Linked DNA regions of Homo sapiens: regions 2 and 3 are each reported to be linked to region 1. The links are microRNA targets in miRTarBase. Many come from high-throughput screens and were not tested one by one. Region 1 holds a microRNA gene; each other region holds the end of a gene's coding sequence.
What was found. Region 1 holds the annotated microRNA hsa-miR-4524a-3p (UGAGACAGGCUUAUGCUGCUAU, at 2,831-2,852, opposite strand). A microRNA usually pairs through its seed, bases 2 to 8, with sites in the 3' UTR of a target mRNA and lowers its output. Matches are read on the target gene's strand: a 7mer-m8 pairs with bases 2 to 8, a 7mer-A1 pairs with bases 2 to 7 and ends in A, and an 8mer does both.

Region 2: miRTarBase lists COX19 as a target of hsa-miR-4524a-3p. Seed matches in the 3' UTR shown: 7mer-m8 at 1,370-1,376, 7mer-m8 at 1,490-1,496, 7mer-m8 at 3,511-3,517, 8mer at 3,674-3,681 and 7mer-m8 at 4,025-4,031.
Region 3: the mRNA of RABGEF1 is a reported target of hsa-miR-4524a-3p. Seed matches in the 3' UTR shown: 7mer-A1 at 876-882.

What each region holds. Positions count from the first base shown.
Region 1 is chr17:69,096,740-69,100,807 of GRCh38, forward strand. It overlaps MIR4524A (microRNA 4524a), which reads right to left and starts at 2,893; the gene lies at 2,825-2,893. It overlaps ABCA6 (ATP binding cassette subfamily A member 6), which reads right to left. Exons shown (of 39, transcript NM_080284.3): 22 at 4,058-4,068; 23 at 1,181-1,288; 24 at 1-62. MIR4524B (microRNA 4524b) reads left to right here and starts at 2,803; the gene lies at 2,803-2,917.
Region 2 is chr7:965,786-969,853 of GRCh38, reverse strand. It overlaps COX19 (cytochrome c oxidase assembly factor COX19), which reads left to right. Exons shown (of 3, transcript NM_001031617.3): 3 at 398-4,068. The coding sequence ends at 476. Among named protein-coding and RNA genes, the nearest start is that of COX19, 7.7 kb to the left of the region's middle. RefSeq lists enhancers at 1,783-2,283, 2,284-2,784.
Region 3 is chr7:66,808,642-66,812,709 of GRCh38, forward strand. RABGEF1 (RAB guanine nucleotide exchange factor 1) reads left to right here. Exons shown (of 9, transcript NM_014504.3): 9 at 245-2,823. The coding sequence ends at 643. It also overlaps the pseudogene GTF2IRD1P1. Among named protein-coding and RNA genes, the nearest start is that of RABGEF1, 70 kb to the left of the region's middle.

The sequences.
Region 1 (4,068 bases):
TGCCCACACCAGTAAGCAGAAGTGTAGAGGCCTGAAATCCATAGCTGGGACTTAGCATTTTTCTGATTAAAAAAAAAAAGAAAGAAAGAAATGTATATAGATTCAATTAAAATGCAAATCTAAAATAAACACAAACACATTGGAAGAATTTTTAAGATAAATATAATCTAATCTTCTAATATTAAAAAAAATTATGCATATACTGCTTAGTAACATGAGGCTTATAGAGCCAGTTCCATGGTTTACAAGGTGTCTATCAAAAATAAAATGTATACTGTGATAGGCCTGACTCATAACACAACTTTAGCTCATGAATAATGAAAAGTGGACCTCATAATGTTCAAGGCATTAAACTCTATAAAAATAAGTATTGGCCAGCATGGTGGCTCACGCCTGTAATCCCAGCACTTTGGGAGGCCAAGGCGGGTGGATCACAAGGTCAGGGGATTGAGGCCATCCTGGCTAACATGGTGAAAGCCCATTTTGACTAAAAACACAAAAAGTAGTTGGGCATGGTGGTGCAAGCCTGTAATCCCATCTACTCAGGAGGCTGAGGCAGAAGAACTGCTTGAACCCGGGAGGCGGAGTTTGCAGTGAACCGATTTTGCACCATTGCACTCCAGCCTGGGCAACAGAGTGAGACTCCATCTCAAAAAAAAAAAAAAAAAAGTATTATTTTGTGACCTGGAGGACATAATACATTTACCTTTACCTAAACATCTTGGAGAGTTTCTGGCTCAGGATGGTGAACGTTGATAGATTTAACTGCTTTGTCTGAATAATGGGCATAATCGAATACAAATATAACATAAAATTGCAATTTCCAGAGTGGAAAAGGAATTCAAGTCTTAAATTTGGCCTTTGATTTCAACATCAATGATTTCCTTCTTGTGGCTGGGAAATAATGTGGTCAAAAGATTTATAATATTTCCCTTTGAAGGTTTAGACTAATTGGAGTCTCTGAAAAATCACTGTACTTTTCAGGTGACTTTGGAATAAAAAGCATTTTGAGTTTTTAGAAGTAAATTATCTGACTTGCCAAGAATAAGGTTTAGCTACAATATCTAAATTAAACATACATTCAAATGTTTTTGTCAGAAGAAAACATTTTGAACACATAGCATTCAAAATACAGATATTGAAATTCCTGAAATTTCTTCTTTTCCCTGCTTTTTCTTACCTTGTAATCACTGATGCTGCCCATGGTGATATAAGGAGAAATGCTACATAGAACCAAAAATAAGAAAAAGGAACCATCCGGCAACCCAGTCCAGAGTCCTATGTGGCTCTGAAAATATAAAGGGTAGCTTAAACTAGTGAATATTTGTTAAATGAAACAAATAATTATAGCCACAAAAATGCACTTTTTGAAATGTTGAAAAATCAAAGTAAAGGTGTAGCTCATTACCATCTAGGCACGAAGGTGGGAGGGAAAGTGACTCTGATCTTCAACTCAAAGAACAAAGAGAAGTCAAAAGTCATTTAGGACCTACTTCTGGGGATATTTCCAAAAGAATTGAAAGCAAGCTCTCGAAGAGATACCCTCACATTCATATTCATACCAACAATACTCACAAGTGGAAGCAACCCAAAAGTCCAAATTAATGGATTAACAAAATGTGTATGTATATACAAACAATGGATACTATTCAACCTTAAAAAGGATCACTTGAGGTCAGGAGTCTGAACCAGCCTGACCAACATGGTGAAACCCCATCTCTACTAAAAATACAAAATCAGCCAGGTGTGGTGGTAAATGTCTGTAATCCCAGCAACTTGGGAGGCTGAGGCAGGAGAATCGCTTGAATCTGGGAGGCAGAGGTTGCAGTGAGCAGAGATCGCCCCATTGCACTGCAGCCTGAGCAACAAGAACAAAACTCGGTCTCAAAAAAAAAAAAAAAAAAAAAAGAAGGAAATCCTGTCACATGCTACAACATAGACGAACCTGGAAAATATGCTAAGTGAAATAAACCAGTTACAAAAAGACAAATATTCCACTTATATAAGGTTTCTAAACTAGTAATATTCATAGAAACATAATAGGATGGTTATTTCCAGGGGATGGGGGAGGGGGAAAGCTAATTGGCATCGAGTTTCAATTCCGCAAGACGGCAAAGTTCTGGAGATGCATTTCACAACAATGTGAATATACTTAATACTACTCAACTGTACACTTGCAAACAGCTAAAATGGTCAATTTTATATCATGTATTATTACCACAACAAAAAAACAATAATTCAGAAGTTAGGACCTCTGATGAACATATAATTCAGGCCTGAGTAGCACGTCTTTCTGAGCAAACCCAGAGATGGAAACCTCAGTAGCTGGGTGGATGTGTTCTGAAGCACAGAACCAAGAAGAAAACTTGTTGCTGCTTGTCTTAACTTCAGGGAAAGGAACTTTAAATCACTACCCCCAAATCAGCATCCACTTGAGGCTAGGCCAAGTGGACACTCTAGCAGCATCTAGGACCACCTCATGGATATAATTACAGGATAACAGCATGAGCCTGTCTCAAAATAATTCCACAATTATTTAACTTTATTTAAGACTTTGAGGGCTATGTCTATAAATTCTGTTTTTCATCATAGGAATGAGGGAGGAAAGGTGTGTGCCATGGGGAAGTGGGAGTGGGGAACAGGTTTCTAATAGAGTAGCTATGGGCTTCAGTCCATTTTGATCCTGAGCAAACACAATGGCATTAGGAAGCTAATAATTCAGAAGTTAGGACCTTTGATGAACACATAATTCAGGCCTGAGCAGCATGTCTTTCTGAGCAAACCCAGAGATGGAAACCTCAGTAGCTGGGTGGATGTGTTCTTTTGAAGGATAGCAGCATAAGCCTGTCTCAAAATAATTCTGCAGTGAGACAGGTTCATGCTGCTATCGTTCCAAAGAGGAAGGGTAATCACTGTCTCTTTCTGCTACTCCTCTGGTTCCACTTTCTGGAGAATTCCCTTCAGACACCCCTTCCCTCGAGTCATCCTGTGCAGCAGACCTGTTTACGTGATCAGTCGGTCATACTCAACTCACGGAGGTATGTGTCTGTCACGAACATCTCAAGTACTGTATATTTCATCCCCATTGTTCCCATGGCTTACAGAAAACCTGTGCTTGCATATACTCCCAGCACCACTGATTCAGTGAAGCCAAAACTGAGCTTCACACTTTTGTCACAAAATGGACTTCCCTTTGGATGGCTTCATTTCTAATCCTGCTTCTTGATGTTTCAGACTTCTGGTGTGAAACAGTTGGAGTCAGCTTTGAGACACCCCTGTTGGTATCAGGCAGGGTCTAACCAGAAAACCATGACTACGTTAAGTTCTTAGAGTGCAATTCCTTATGACATGGTTAGGTGGGTGATGAGCATCCCACAAAGATGGTGAAGTGAGAAGCAAGCTATTGTTGCTTCTGGGCTTCAGGAACAGCAGAAGGAGGTGATGTGACTGGAGCCCAATGTAGGGGGTCCTCTGCTCTTCTGTCTCCCACCACTGCTTTCTAGTGTCCAAACTGTCTGAAGCCAGACTATAGCCAACTGACACAGAATCCAATGCAGCCTGTGTGTATTAGGCTCCCTCACAACATAGAGCAACTATGAGTAGGTGAATAAATAAATCAACAGATAGCCCCAGAACTGGCAGATTCTCCTTCATATTAGTCTGTCTACTACACATTTAGTCAATGGAGGGTCCACTAACTAATTATAATAGATTTATATGTAACCAGGGTTACAAGTTCTCCTGATTTCCAAGTCAGTGTTTTCTTTTTTCTGTTTCTCTTTCTCATACACTTCCACAATCAAGTATGTACAACTTTTCAAAACATTGCCTAGAAGACTGACAAAATATTGAAAAGTATTCCCTCACGATAATTATCTGATAACTTGGCAGGAAAAAAAAATCCTGTTTTGTTTGCTATAACCCATTGAAAATATTAGGATAAAATAATAATTTTCAGGCTTAACAATCACTTATGGATATTTAAAAGCTAAAGAGAGAAAACATAGGCTATTTGTCCAATTCTTAATTGTTTAGACTCAGTAAATCCAATACTTACAAGAGGAAATG
Region 2 (4,068 bases), not on the chromosome of region 1:
GGATTAGGGCGTGAACACCTTTAGGGGTCATTATCCTGCCAATCAAAGCAAGTCTGAGAGGTCAGCGTGAAGCTGTTGTCCAGATACATCTTTTAGCAGGACGTGGGGAAGTGTTGTGTGCTGGGGGCAGCGGGTGCAGCTGCCCCTCTTGGACATCCCAAGAGGCCCCAGGCCTTAGGCCCTGGGACGTCTCTAGGTGGTCATGTCCTCATTGTCCTGTTGACTCTGCCCAGTGGGGAAGGCACCAGCCACGGGGGCCGAGGCCGAGGGGCCACTCTCCCAGGACATAGATGGAGGTGGCAGGACCCCCGGTGTGCGCTGGGAAGCCGGGGCCTGCAAGGGCCCCTCTTGTCCTCTCTGCACCTCCCGCCCTGACAGCTTTCTCTTTTTCTTTTAGAAAATTGATGCTACAAGAACCATTGGAGAAACTGGGATTTGGAGACTTGACTAGTGGAAAATCAGAGGCAAAAAAATGAATTTTGATGAGAAGACCCCTGGGCCGTGTTCAGTGGTCTCTCAGGACGGAGGGCATCATCCTGCCTCTTAGGTTGGCTGAGGCCTGCGTGTGGTGTCCTTAGAAATGGGCTTCGAATAGAAGCTCCAGCCCTGTGGGGGCGTCTCCTGGGTAGGGAGTGGCGTCCCGTTTTCCCTTAGGAGGGTGTTTCTGCATTGAACCCCTGAGTGGGACGGCGTTCCCGGCAAAGCTGGGAGGGAGGCGAGCGTGGGGCAAGACCCTTGTCTTCGAGGCCGGGGCCCTCTTGTATGGGGCGGTTTTATGTTGCAGTCCTCTGATACTTTCTGAGTTCAAAGAGGTAAATGTATAAATTTCAGTCCCTTCTGAACACAGATATCATCAGAAAATTACCATTCCCTAGCAGGATGTTTTCGTGTTTGTATTCGTATATGCCAGTTCATTTCCTTTGAAAAAAAAAAAAAGTGGAACACAAAGTAGGAAGTGAGAACCTTCTGGCTTTGGATGGATTGACTTCTTGATTCTTTCTGGTTTTGCCTGAACACCAAGTAGCTTCATAATCAAAGGGTCATTTTCTGGTTTGTATCAGACCGTATTTATAAAGTTGGGTATTTAATTTCAGTAACTCCTGTATTTTAACAGAAAAAGAACCTGAGTCCATTTGCAGTTAGGCTCGCACCAGCTGTCTTCTGTGCCAGCCAGCTCCGCCCGAGACCCCGGCACGTGTTCGCAGCACAGCCTGGCAGGGGCCCTGAGCGGAGTTCTCAGCCCGTCTGTGCCAAAGTTGCCTGTGGGTCACGGAAACCCGGCCCATGTCCACCCAGTGCGTCAGGCCAGCCGGGGCCCAAACCTGTGGATGGAACGCAGGTGCCTGCACATCTGGGGCCTCAGCCAGACCTGTCTCCTTCCCAGGCACTGTCGGAAAGGGGCTGGCTCCTGTCTGGTCAGTGGAGGATGGTGGCAGGAGACGGGGTGGGGAGGTCCAGGTCACGTCCTCTCTGGCGACCCTGGCAGTGGCTGTCTCCAAGCCCTGGCAGGTGGGGCCACCAATCTGGCCGACCTCAGGCTCTGGGAAACAGGCTGCCCTCGTCCCTCTGCCTGTGGGTGGCTGAGGCTTCTCAGCCCATCTCCAGTTCTCTGCAGCAAAGGCCCTCTGTTTCTGTCCTGCAGTGGTGGCCCTTTCGTGGTTAAACATGTCCCTCCCCTCCTCACAGAACTGAGTACCTATTGCGGCTGGGCCCGCCCAACCCTGTGTCCCTGCACCCATGGGTTCTACCACCTGATTCGGCTGCAGCTGTCACTGTCCCGTGTCTGCTCTCTGTCAGGCCTCTGAGTGCTGCAGACGTATTAACATATCACCGCTAGTTGATGGAAAGTCTTGTTTCTTATTAGAATATTTTGTGTAGGCACAGGGTTGCCCCAGCACTGTCTATAGCAACCCCAGTGTCCTCACAGTGCACGTGAGCCGTGACGCAGCCACCGTGGAGTCGGCGCTGACGCGGTGTGGCCACGTGCCATGAGCTCGCCAACGCAGTGCGGCTATATGGCGTGAGCTTACTGTGAAGTGGAGACAGGCAGGGACACAGGAAACTACAAACGAGAAATCCAGAAGGAGGAGCTGGAACTGATGGGCATAGCCGGCCGCGAGCCCCTCCGAGCACCCCTGGGGGTGGAGTTCTGGCTGTCATGGCAGAGGGTTTCACATGCTCAAAAAGTAAATGAACCAGGATGTGAGGGGAACACAACAGACCATGCCGACGGAGCTCCCGGGCCCAGGCCGGGGCCTCTTCCCATCGCACTCTGACCCGCCGTCGGGAGTGCCCAGGCCCGGGTCGGGCCTGCCTCTCCGCTCGCACCGCACTCTGACCCATCAGGAGTGTGGGGAAGACCGTCGACCAAAGGTGGGAAAGACAGGAAAGATACTGTACTCTAAGTAGTAAATTTGTTTTTTGCGTGGACGATTCTGAAGCTGTATTCTGAGATGGAAAAAACTAGAAATACATCGTGGATGATGAGAGCCAGGTGTATTGAGCTCCTGCTTTTCTAACGTACAAAGGTAACTGGATAGAGAAACGGAGTGATCGCCCTCACCTGGCCAGGGTGTGCTCCGAGACCCCAGCAGGTGCCGAAGCCGCGGATAGTCCCGAATCCTGTCCAGGCGCTGTTTTTTCCTGTACGTACCTGTGATCAAGTCTGAGATGTGACAGCAAAACTGACAGAACTTCGTGCTTCCCTCTTCAAAATGTCACAGATGGGCACTGTGTTCTTACCGGAGATCTTAGCAACCTCGGCATCTGGCTGTTTTTCTTATAGGTCAGGAGTTTCCACCTTTTCCCTTAAAGGAAGCGCTTGGCAGCTTCTCTGGTGTGTCTGAGTCGCCAGCATCACCACTGTCCTGTTCTGGGGCCATTCTTAAGTAAAATAAAAGCTTCTTGGACCCAAGCACCACATCACCGCGATGGCTGGTCTGATCACCGAGATGGCTGCTGAGTGCCTGGCAGGCAGGGTGGCGTGGATGGCCCGAAACGCTGGACGGAGGGAGGGTTGATGTCCCAGCAGGACGGCTGCTCAGAACAGCACAGAATCAAAAACTCATGAATGGTTTATTTCTGGAATTTTCCACTTAGTATTTTTGGACTGTGGCTGACCATGGGTAACTGAAACCGTGTGTAAGGGGGACTGTTGTGAGGGGCTGTGCACAAATGCTTCCCAGCTCTTGAGGGCCTGGACGCAGTGACCCGTGCACTCAGGGTCTTGGCCCTGATACCATTCTGTAACCAAAAGGAACCAGGGCCAGGCCAGAGAAGGTATCAGATGAGCTAGAGAGTGAAGAATTGCTGGGATGAGGAGACTTGTTGAAATAACACGGGGGGATGGGAAGGAGCATACGGTGGCCAGCCTGGGGCAGTGTGAGCGTGAAAATAAACAGGCTGGGCGCAGCGGCTCACGCCTGCAATCCCAGCACTTTAGGAGGCCAAGGTGGGAGGATCACTTGAGGCTAGGAGTTCAAGACCAGCCTGGGCAACATGGGTGAAACCCTGTCTCTACAAAACAAGAAAAGTCAGCCGTGCGTGGTGTCACCCGCCTGTAGTCCCAGATACTCAGGAAGCTGAGGCAGGAGGATCACTTGAGCCAGAGGTTAAGTCTGCAGTGAGCTGTGATTGTACCACTGCTCTCCAGCCTGAGCAACAGAGCCGGACCCTGTCTCACCAAAGGAAAAAAAAAAAAAAAAAAGAAAGAAAATTAATTATTGTAATGGGCTGTAGCCCTCAGAATAAATTGATATCCAGTAGTCTATACAACATAAGTAATTGCGTAAACATGTCAGTGGGGGGAGGGCCAGGTCTGTCTTATTAATTCTAATATAGAAGAAATTTTGGGAACAGGAAACTGCTGTTGCAGAAACCACACTGGTGACAGGTGCAGATTACAACCCTCAGCGGGCCGGGCGCCAGTGGCTCACGCCTATAATCCCAACACTTTGGGAGGCCGAGGCAGGCAGATCACTTGAGGCCAGGAGTTCAAGGCCAGCCTGGCCAACATGGAGAAACCCTGTCTCTACTAAAAATACAAAAATTAGCTGGGGCTGGTGGCGT
Region 3 (4,068 bases), not on the chromosome of region 1:
CTTCATGGTGCACCTGGGGAGGCTGCACCCAGACATCGGCCCTGGAGCTCCTGGGAGTGTATAGGAAGCACGACCGGGGATAGGAGTAGGTAATTTTTGAGGCTGAAATACACAGAAGTTCATGAGTTTGTTTTGTTTACTTTAGCTTCTGTTTTAAATGGTCTGTGATCAAAAGATTTTTACAAATCGACTCGAGTATGCATAGCTTTCCTAATATGACTGTATTAACGTCCTCTTCTTGTAGTGCTGTGCTGTGGCTTTCATTGAGAAGCTAGACGCCCAGTCTTTGAATCTAAGTCAGGAGGATTTTGATCGCTACATGTCTGGCCAGACCTCTCCCAGGAAGCAAGAAGCTGAGAGTTGGTCTCCTGATGCTTGCTTAGGCGTCAAGCAAATGTATAAGAACTTGGATCTCTTGTCTCAGTTGAATGAACGACAAGAAAGGATCATGAATGAAGCCAAGAAACTGGAAAAAGACCTCATAGATTGGACAGATGGAATTGCAAGAGAAGTTCAAGACATCGTTGAGAAATACCCACTGGAAATTAAGCCTCCGAATCAACCGTTAGCAGCTATTGACTCTGAAAACGTTGAAAATGATAAACTTCCTCCACCACTGCAACCTCAAGTTTATGCAGGATGATCACAATTTAGTGGAGAGTATTTATTTGAGCCTAAATTGTAGGTAGCCCTTACTACACTCAACTGATTGGGATCTAGAATGTAACTAAATTGCTTATAAATGTCAGCATTTTTTAAAGGTACAGTATATGGGGATTGTTTCGTTTTTCCTAGCAGGGGAACCTTAGTTAATAATAAAATACTACTTATTTGAGTTACTGATACAGATTCATTTAAGGCTTGTGTGCAAATTTTGTCTCAATCTTTTTTCCCTCCATGATTTTCCTATGTGCTTCCTCTGGCATTCACTGTGGTTTTGGTAAATAATTGCCTTTTAAAGGATTAAACAAATGAATGCTACAAAGTGTATGTTCAAGAAAATTAAATGGTACCACTCTTCCACAGTTTGGAATAATTTTATAATTGTAAAGATAGAAATTATATTGATAAGTAAATATGTAAAATTGTAAATATGTAAAAAAAAGAATGGTGTCTGCTGTGCATGGCATTTTATATGTTAATTTTTTAGTTTAAAATGAAGTATATTGAATGTTTGCCTTTAGCACCATTTTATTTGGTTTGTCCCACTAAAATGACTCGAGAAGTGTTTAGACAAACTCCCCTTAAGATGTGCACTCCATCTTTAAGAACGTGTTAGCCTTAACTTTGAGGTTCTATATAGTCAGAGACTATGACACCACTAAGGTTCAGAATAAAGTTTAGGCCACATAAAATTGCTGTTTAATGTAGTCGATGGAAGACTTTAAACTATGCTTCTAGCTTATTTTTCCCTCATTCATTCAGCAAATCTCTATTGAGTTCTTCAGTGAGAAGGAGCAGGCACTGGGCCTGGAATGGAAGGCGGGAATGAATGGGCCTCTGATGGTGAGAGGTGACGGGGTCCCTCAGCTGTGAGATGCAAGGGGCGCCTTGCAGCCTCCATAATATACATTTGACTTTGCAAACGTCTAGACATGTTTTCTGAACCTTTTTCAGGACATTTCAACCTCGGGACTATTCATATTAGTGGCCTGAGAGGTGTTTGTTGTGGGGCCACCCTGTGCATGGTAGAATGTTCAGCAGCATTCCTGCCATCCATATCCATTAGGTGCCAGTAGCACCCCCGCTAGAGCTGTGAAAAATTCTCTCCAGACATAGTCAGATGTCTCCTGGGGCCATATCACCCCTCCGTTAAGAACCACTGATGTCTTTTACAAACCAGGAGTTATCCTCCTGGTGGTTAATATGGTGTAACCAAAGAATCTTGCACTCAATGCACAGTGTGATGTTAACTAAAACGAGTTAAATATTTAGGAGGCTTGACAGCTACCTGCATTGTAGAACCTTTTCTTATCTCAGTGGAACCTTCTATAACCTAAATATACCATTGATGATTCTTCTTCCATTCAGTGACATCCACAGATTATGCAGCTATACTTGTGAAATCGTGCATGAGGCCCCAGGGCACCGTTCTAGAACAACGTCACTTCACACAGGCAGCTGAGAAAGGTTCTCTTGCTTTTCCAGTATCTTCCTAAGGATGGAGCCCAAAATTGCAGAGCAGTAACTTTGGAATAAAACCAGGGTGGGTATAAAACTTCTTATTCTTAAATTTACATATAAGATCTATTAAGCTTGACACATCTGTGTCATCACGCACTGAAGACAGGAAGCAGTTCACTGAGTCAGCTGGTTCCCAAGCTCGCACAGAAGGTGATAAGTTACTATCAAATGCCAGTGAGAATCTTCTTATAGAATAACCTGGGCCCAAGTGATTTTAGTACAAAACTTGCCCTTCTTTGGTTTAATTTTCTATGTGCTTTTAGGTGTGAATCCAGATATGCGGTCTTAATTCCTTTGGAAATACACAGTTCGTTTAGTTACTGTACACTCTGTTTGTTCAATAAACTGCATATCAACTTCCCACAAAAGCTGACTTTTTTGGGTCTCTTACATATAAAGTAGGTTATTGAGTTGATTTTTTTGGAGGTATCTCATATTGGTCGAATTCTTCTGGTATGGACTCTTGCCTTATATAGAGGCTTCTATTTCTCTTAAGTCAGCATCAATACAACGGCCGGAGTTTCTGTTTTTGCAATAAGAAGATGTTGGTATTTTATGTAGGGTAAATGTGACTGGAATACACCTTTGGAACGGAATTCTTTATCAATAAAGTTTCACAATCCGTCCCTCTTCCAAAAATTGATTTGGTTCTTTCTTAGGAAAATATACATTATTATTAATATTCTCATGCTACAGAGGTTTTCTGGTTAAGCTATACCTAAAAATGAAACATTAGAGACATTTGTCAGTTAAAATTAAGAAGACAAGAATATTTGCTGTCACCACAATCAATCAACCTTGTTCTTGCAGTTCTACCAAGGTACTCAGTCTTCAAACAGACATAAAAGTAGAGAAAAAAGGAGTTAATGTAATCAATATAGAGCTATTATTGTCTGTTGGTGAGGACATGAACTCTGAAGCTGGAAGGCTTGGATTTGGTTTTGAATTTTATTCTGCTACTTATTAGCTCATTGGCCCTGAACAAATCTCTTGTTTCAGATCCCTCAGCTGTGAAATGGGGTTAATAATATTACTGCTTCATGGGGTTGTTGTCTGAACTTAGAACAAATGATAGCTATTATTTGTAGATGGTTATTTTATGTAGAAAACCCAAGAGAAGGCTGGGTGTTGTGGCTCACGCCTGTAATCGCTTTTGGAGGCAAGGCAGGAGGAATGCTTGAGGCCAGGAGTTTGAGAGCAATGTCAGCAACATAGTGAGACCCACATCTCTACAAAAAAAAAAAACACTAGCTGGGCATGGTGGTGTGTACCTGTAGTCCCAGCTACTGGGGAGGCTAAGGTGGGAAGATCACCTAAGCCCAGGAATTTGAGGTGGCAGTGAGCTGTGATCTCACCATTGCATGCTAGCCTGAGTGAGACCCTGTCTTGAAAAACAGAAATGTAAAAAAAGAAAACCCAAGAGAATTTATATTGAAACTATAGAATTTCATCTCTATATTAGTGAAAGATGAAAATTCTAAAATAGCGATAAAAGCTAACTGTACAAAATGATTTTCCTATATACCATTACTAACCACTTAGCAAACATTGTGGAGAAAAAAATCAATTTACAATAGAAACAAATATAAATCACCTACAGAGAACAAGAGCTTTCAGGATCGATACGAAAAACAGAAAATTGAGTGAGAAGCACAAAGGTGTGACTGCAAAGGGCCCTGTGCTTGGACTTTAGGGCTCTGTAGCTGCCATCGTGAAATTCTTCTTTTTTGTTTTTGTTTTTCTTTGGGCTGGGGGGTATAGGGTCTGGCTCCGTAACCCAGGCTGTGGAGTGCAGTGGTGTGAACATGACTTACTGCAGCCTGGACCTCCTGGGCTCAAGCTAGCCTCTCGTCTCAGCCACCTGAGTAGCTGGGACTACATGTG